Linked DNA regions of Homo sapiens. The protein of the gene in region 1 interacts with the protein of each later gene in a pairwise test. Each region holds a gene or a part of one and is shown in the gene's direction. Other genes may lie near its edges. The genes, in order: TOX2 and ANKS1A.

The links.
Region 2: the proteins of TOX2 (region 1) and ANKS1A interact in a two-hybrid assay, tested with the Homo sapiens proteins (one large-scale study listed by BioGRID).

The regions. Positions count from the first base shown.
Region 1 is NC_000020.11:43,917,599-43,921,626, forward strand, and holds part of TOX2 (TOX high mobility group box family member 2), read left to right. Parts: intron 1-4,028. UniProt on the Homo sapiens protein: Putative transcriptional activator involved in the hypothalamo-pituitary-gonadal system.
Region 2 is NC_000006.12:34,895,755-34,899,254, forward strand, and holds part of ANKS1A (ankyrin repeat and SAM domain-containing protein 1A), read left to right. Parts: intron 1-3,500. UniProt on the Homo sapiens protein: Regulator of different signaling pathways. Regulates EPHA8 receptor tyrosine kinase signaling to control cell migration and neurite retraction.

The DNA.
Region 1 (4,028 bases):
TGGCGACCGTCCCCTTGGCGACCATCCCCTTGGCGACTGTCCCCTTAGCGATCCTCTACACAGAGATTCCCAGCCTCTTTAAACCAAAGTCACGAACATTGGTTGTTCTTTTGGTATCTTTTGTTTGAGAAAATGCACACTAATGAAAAGCTGTTATGGTTTTATTTTTGCTTTGAAATAGATGTGTATTTTATTAAACACAATATTAGCATGCATTAGAAAAATAGCTTAACAGGTATGAAGAAGACTCATTACTATTTAATGTAATAAAGGTGCTTTTTGAGCATAGGGATTTGTGGCCCCATGGCTCCCAGGATCTGTGGCTCCATGCTGGGAACCATTGGTCTCCTCCTTCTTTGCATTACAGAAGGGGAAACTGAGTCACAGAGGAGTGTAACTCACAGATTACACAGCAAGTAAGGAACAAAGATGAGGCCTGAGCCCAGGTTTGACTCCCAGCAGGACACTTGTTTGGCTTTTTTGCAAGTCTCTGTCATGGTTCAGGGGTTTAGAGCCTGTAACATCTTTCTTAGGGTAACTATGAACTCCTGGTTCAGATTTTGGCAAGGCATCTTACCAGGCTGGGGGACAGCTGGGGGATCCCTGCTCAACTATGGCAGACTAGTGTAAACTAGCCATCAGAACTGGGCAAGCCTGGGTTCAAATGTCCATTTGTTGCTTAGTGACCTAGGGCAAATGATTTTTAGCTCATTTTTTACTGAGATGTGATTTACATACAATAACATGAAGATTTTAAGTGTACAGTTCCATGAGTTTTGATAAATATTAACACTCATGTAACCAGCATCCCAGTCCAGATAGAGAACATTTCCGTCATCCCAGGAAGTTCCCTCACATCCCTTTATAGACAGCACGCCTTATCCCCACCTCCAGAGGCAACTACTTACCTGATTTCTGTTACCAATGCTTTCTTTAAGTTCAATTTAGGTATATTAACCATGCTTAAGTTCTAGAACTTGATATGCAGCATAAACATTTGTGTGTCTGTCTTCTTTTTGCTCAATGTAATGTCTTCAACATTCATCCACGATGTTGTATATATCCATAGTTTGTTCCATTTAATTGCTGAGTAATATTATATTGTATAAATATAATACAATTGGTTTATCCATTCACCTGCAGGTGGACATTTGGGTTTGTTTCCAAGTTGGAGCTATTATAAGTAAAGCTACTGTGAACATTCTTATACAAGTCTTTTTGTGGGCGGGGAAAATCATTTAATATCTCTGAGTCTTGGTGTTCTCTCAAAGACAACATTGCCTACCTCTGAGTTTCAGGACGGTTAAGTGAGGTGATACAGGTTAGGACAGTTATTGGCACATACCAGCTACTAATTAGATAACAACAATATCAACCATCTGGGGCCCATTCCAGGAAGAGGCTTAGCATCTCCGTTCCAGCATCCTTCGTCCCTGGACTGAAGGGATGAAGGCCTTCATCAAGGCCAACCTGGGTACCACCTTCCCCATGTGGTGCTTCACAGCCAGCAAACTTCTCTTTCTTTCCAGGCTTCCCCAAGAACTGATACTGCATAGGATGTGGCATGTTCTGCCATCCATCATTCTACCAAAAATATTTATTGAGCACTTCTTGGTGCTAGGCACTGTGCACAGCAACTGATGCTGCAGCAGTGAACAAAAGTCACTCAAATCACTGCCCTCTGGAGCTTATTTATCAGTGTGGGAAGTCATAAATATATGGGTGAAATATATGGTATCATGATTGATGGGAATATGACTTTTGGAGAAAAATGGAACAGGAAAGAGAGTTGGGAGTCCCAAGGCCTGGGGCTGGTTTGTGATTGTTAAATAGGGAAGTTGAGGAAGGCCTTGTGGTCTAGAATAGTGTTTCTCAAATCTATGTACACATGAAGAATCAGCTGGCAAGATTTTTTTTAAATTTTATTTTAAGTTCCAGGATACATGTGCAGGATGTGTATATTTGTTACATAGGTAAACGTCTGCCATGGTGGTTTGCTACACCTATGAACCCATCACCTAGGAGTTAAGCCCCGCATGCATTAGCTATTTATCCTGATGCTCTCACTCCCTCCCTCCCCCCGGCACTTGACAGGCCCCGGTGTGTGTTGTTCCCCTCCCTGTGTCCATGTGTTCTCATTGTTCAGCTCCCACTTATAAGTGAGAACATGCGGTGTTTGGTTTTCTGTTCCTATGTTAATTTGCTGAGGATAATGGCTTCCAGCTCCATCCATGCCACTGCAAAGGACATGATCTTGTTCCTTTTTATGGCTGCATAGTATTCCATGGTGTATGTGTACCACATTCTCTTTATCCAGGTTAACACTGATGGACATTTGGGTTGATTCCGTGTCTTTTGTCTGGCGAGATTGTAAAAACAGATTCTTGGGCTCCACCCCCAGAGATTGGATTCAGTTGGTCTGGCATGGGGTCCTAGGAATTTGCATGTCTAATGAGCTACCCAGGTGTTGTTACTGCTGATCCAAGGACCACACTTTGTGTAGCAGTTGTTTGGTTGTTTGTGTACAGGCTTTTGTGGGCTCCTGGCAGGCAGGAATTCTGCCCAGCACCTGGCATCGTGCCTGACTCATAATTGCTCAGTAAATATGTGCTGGTGGGTGAAGGATTCAACTTCCCACCCACACAGCTCTGGGCACAGCATCTTGTAAGGATGAGATCTGGACAAGCTTGGTTAATGAATGATTGAGGACTCTTTTTGACAAAAATTCATGAAGTGGGGTTAAACTATGGACTTGATCTGGACTTGACCTATGTGAGGCCTGCCCGGCATACTTGGTGGGTGAGATTCCCACAGCTCCTTTCTTCAGGGGCACAGGTGGCTGCTAATGGGTCCCATGGAAGGTACCCTGGGATGGGTGGGCTTAGAGCTGAGATGGCTGGTCCCAGGGAACGCTAGATGGATGTCTGCATCTCTGCTAGGAAGCTCTCATTTACTTTCCATCTAAACATGCTCCCTATAGCTCCTCCCCCAACCTGTGCTGGAGGCTCCTCCAGGAAGGACCCCAGGATGTTTGCATGGCAGGACCAGCAGCCCAAGCCTGGCACTGCTGCCCCCGATCTGCTGGGTGACCTTGAGCCTGTCAGCACCCTTCTTTGGGCCTCTGTTTCCCTGTGTGCAAAGGGAAGGCAAACCGGTGACCATCAGCCTAGAGGGATGGTGTGGGGGTGGAAATATAATGAAATAAAGGCTGGGAATGTCATTTCTAACTGTGGAGGGTGCACTGGGAGGGAATGCTGGTGGGAATGGTGCTTTTTGAGGAGATGGGCCTGCTATCCTTCAGAGGACAGGAACCACTGTGTCTGCCTTTACTTTTGTATTCCCAGCGCTAGCCTGACACATAGATGCTCAGCAAATATTTGCTGAATGAATGAATGAATCTAGGGCTTGGCAGTTGTAACCTGTGGCTTGAGGAACTTAGCATCTGTTTGGCTGTTGTCATCTGAAGACTTTGTGGGGCACAAGGAGCCAGGGCAGGACCCCGCAGAGGCACAGAGTCTTTGGCGGACCTTCCATTCCTAGAGGAGCTTCCCCAAGTGGGCTCGGAGGACAGAGCCTGGCACACAGAGCAGCCTGTAGGCGGGAAGAGGAGCTGAGCCTGCATGAAGGACAAGGTCCTGTGCCTCCCCCTTGGTCCAGCAGTCCCCCTGCTGTGTGGCTCCTTGCCCCATGTGATTCTGTAGGGCAATCTATTTTGCTTCTCTGATTTCCTAGAGTTGGTCTCAGGATATGAAGGCATCATGGATTCTGGAACCTGGCAGACTTGGGTTTGAACACTGCCTTCACCACCATCAGGGCAGGCAAGTTATTTAACCTCCCTGGACTCAGTCTCCTCATCTGTAAAATGGGGACATTGACATCTCCCCTTTGGAGCTTGAGGGTTGGAGACCATGTATGTGTAGCACTTGGCCCCAGCAGGAAATGCTTTCATTTTCATCCACAAAGAGCAGCCCAACTGAAAGTTAAAATGCGAGAGGAACTTGCTTTTCTGTACCAGCTGCTGGAGGATG
Region 2 (3,500 bases), on another chromosome or scaffold:
AAAATAGTTTTTCAAGAATGTCTTTCTTTTTTTTTTTTTTTTTTTTTTTTTCTGAGACAGTGTCTCTCTCTCTCGCCCAGGCTGGAGTGCGATGGCACGATCTCGACTCATTGCAGCCTCCACCTCCCGGGTTCAAGCGATTCTCCTGTCTCAGCCTCCCGAGTAGCTGGGATTACAGGCGCACGTATTTTAGTAGGGACGGGATTTCACTGTGTTGCCCAGGCTGGTCTCGAACTCCTGAGCTCAGGCAGTCTACCCTCAGCCTCCGGAAGTGCTAGGATTACAGGCGTTAGCCACCGTGCCTGGCCTTTTTTTTTTTTCTTTTTTTTTTCAGAGACAGTGTCTCACTCCTTCATCCAGACTGGAGTACAGTGGTGCAATCTCAGCTCACTGCAACCTCTGCCTCTCAGGTTCAAGTAATTCTTGTGCCTCAGCCTCCTGAGTAGCTGTGATTACAGGCATGCACCACTGCACCTGGCGAATATTTGTATTTTAGTAGAGACAGGGGTTTCACTATGTTGGCCAGGCTAGTCTCGAACTCCTGACTTCAAGTGATCTGCCTGCCTCGGCCTCCCAAAGTGCTGGAATTACTACAGGTGTGAGCCCCCACGCCCAGCCAAGAATGTCTTAAAATACTCCCTTTAAGTGTGATTTTGTTGGGAGGGCAGCCCTGTTCCTGCATTTTGGAATTGCTGTACTTACATTTTTGCTTTCTCTAAAGCAGAGTGTGGTTCCCATGTTAAAAAACAAAAGGAAACAAAAAAAGGTAACATGCTTGGAAATGACTTTTGTGGTAGTTACTTTATATGTAAAAATCTAGAAGGTGCCTAATCTTAAACTGAGTAAGGCATTTACTTAGAATTAAAGATAATTTACCCAGCCTGGGCAACATGGCAAGACCTCGTTTCTACAAAAAATAAAAAAACTAGGCCAGGCGCAGTGGCTCACGCCTGTAATCCCGGCACTTTGGGAGGCTGAGGCGGGTGGATCACCTGAGGTCAGGAGTTAGAGACCAGCCTGGCCAATATGGTAAAACCCCATCTCTATTAAAAATACAAAATCAGCTGGGTGTGGTGGCCTGCATCTGTAATCCCAGCTACTTGGGAGGCTGAGGTAGGAGAATTGCTTGAACCTGGGAGGCAGAGGTTGTAGTGAGCCAAGATCGTGCCATTGCACTCCAGCCTGGGCAAAAAAGAGCGAAACTCCATCTCAAAAAAAATAAAAATAAAAAATTAGCTGAGTGTGATGGCATGCACCTGTGGCCCCAGCTACTCAGGAGGCAGAGACGCAAAGGTGGGAGAATTGCTAGAGCCCAGAAGGTGGAAGGTTGAGGCTGCAGTGAAAAGAAAATTTACTACAAAGTTTAAGATTTAAAGTCAGTGGTCTCCCTTTTTCCTGCATCCTCCAATTGAAGTTCAGTTTTTACTTTCTTAGTTGCAAAAATTAGAGACAGGAAACAATGAAACAAGCTTGTGATCTGAAGAATTTGACTTGTATCTAGTAGCTTCAGCATGTTCACGGGTCATAGGAGGTTATGGTCCCAGTGAAAGTTACATTCTTGGCCAGAAAAATCCCTTCAGGAGGTTCTTTTTCCCACATTGGATTGTTCACCCCAAACAGCTGTGAATTCTGGTTTGCAAAAGGAAGTCCAGGCTATTTCTGCCCTAGTCTTTCATAGGGAAAGTAAATTACTGGGTTTTTAGCCCAGAAACACTAAGGAAACCCCAGAAGTAGACAGTGGAGAGTTTGTTCTTAGAAAAATCAGGCTCTCCTGTGGGTAGGAACTTGGTCTCTTTTTTGGAGAGCTCTCAGAAAATATTTCCCACACTGATTTCCAAAGGATTATTGGGAGATTTTCTGTGGTAGAGAAAATTATATCGTATAATATGTTACATTCATAGAACATCTTCACATAACTTTGGTGTGGTTAGAGTTAATGGTAGTAATACTGGAAATTATATGGTATGTCTTCATATTTATCCTTTCTCAGTAATTTGTAGATCAAGTTTGTTTAGTTTACAAATCAAAAAAGAGTTTTTAAAACAAGTCAGTTGTCTCTGCTTTGAAACAAGATAGTTGTATCTGTTTGTGATATTATTACCACTGATCCAGGAAGCAGAACTGCCTCCTGGCCTACTTAAGTGGTGAGGACATACTATGGTGGCTAAGGATCAGGTTCTGACCCAACTCTGCCTTGTGACTTAGGCAAATTAAGTCACTTTTCTGCGCCTCTGTGTCTTCATATATATAATGGGCCTGGGATGGTGCCTATCTTCTAAAGCAGCATTAAATGAGCTAAAGGATGTAAGGCATATAATGCCTGGCACATGGCAAGGGTTTGGTAACCCTCAGCTGCTAGAATCATCTAATGGGAGCCAGGTGCTTGCCACCCTTGATGAATCAGAGTGAGGACCCTGTTAAGGACATATCTTTTATTGATGTTGCCATTTTAACATTTATAATAATTCACAGCAGAAGCTCCCAACCTTTTAAACTATGAAGAGTCCCATAGTTTTAAAAAGCCTGAAAATTGGCAATGGTGGCAAAGTTACAAAGCAATCCAGGTCCACAATCCTTTGTTTGAAACCTTGGGGCCAGATATGTTTTCAGGGTGCTGACTCAATATTGTATATTGAGTCCCTAGTGGGACTGTGGCAGCACCCTGGAAACATTGTATTTCTACAGCAAAACCTGTAAATATTGACTAAATGGGATAAATATGAAGCCGCTTCATATCAGCGTAGGTCAGGTTTTGCAGCTAAATGACTGCTGCTAACTTATGAAAATATATTTTCAGAGCTTTTTGGATTTCTGAATTGTTGATAAGGGACTGTAAACCTCTGCCTTTATGGTAGAAAAATTGCAAGACAAAGAAATGCACTAAGAAGAAAATAAAATCAGTTATAATTTTACCACCTACAGAAATTAACTTGAAATTTTGGTGTACAATCTTGTTTTTTTCTGTGCAAACTTTTTTTTTTAACAGAAATGACATTATTTTGTATATACTTTGTCTCATGTTTTCACGAACTATATTGTGAAAACACTTTCCTATATTTTCTGTCCTCCTCAACCTCATTTTAAATGGATGTGATATCCGTGGTATATATGAATTGTAATTAATTTAACCCCTTTCCTGACATGGAACATGAGTTTGTTTTTCGTTTTTTGCTATTAGAACAGCTCTGTGATGAACATGCATGTGGATAAGTTTGTGTGTACATTCTGCTTATAACATTTGATATATTCAATAGAATGGTAGGTGTAGTTTCAACATTCAGCCATTGCAGAAATCAACAGCTGAATATTCAAATTGCACCTCAAAATCAACAAGAAACATACATGTTGTTGAATTTGAGGACTCATAGTAATTCTGAGGCCCCTTACATCTCCTGGGTCCTTCTGACTGGGAAGTAATATACTGATTTATGGTTGCTAAATACTACTTATATTCAGAAAGTAACCTTTGTGCAAGCCCAGGACTTTTTAATGGTTAACTT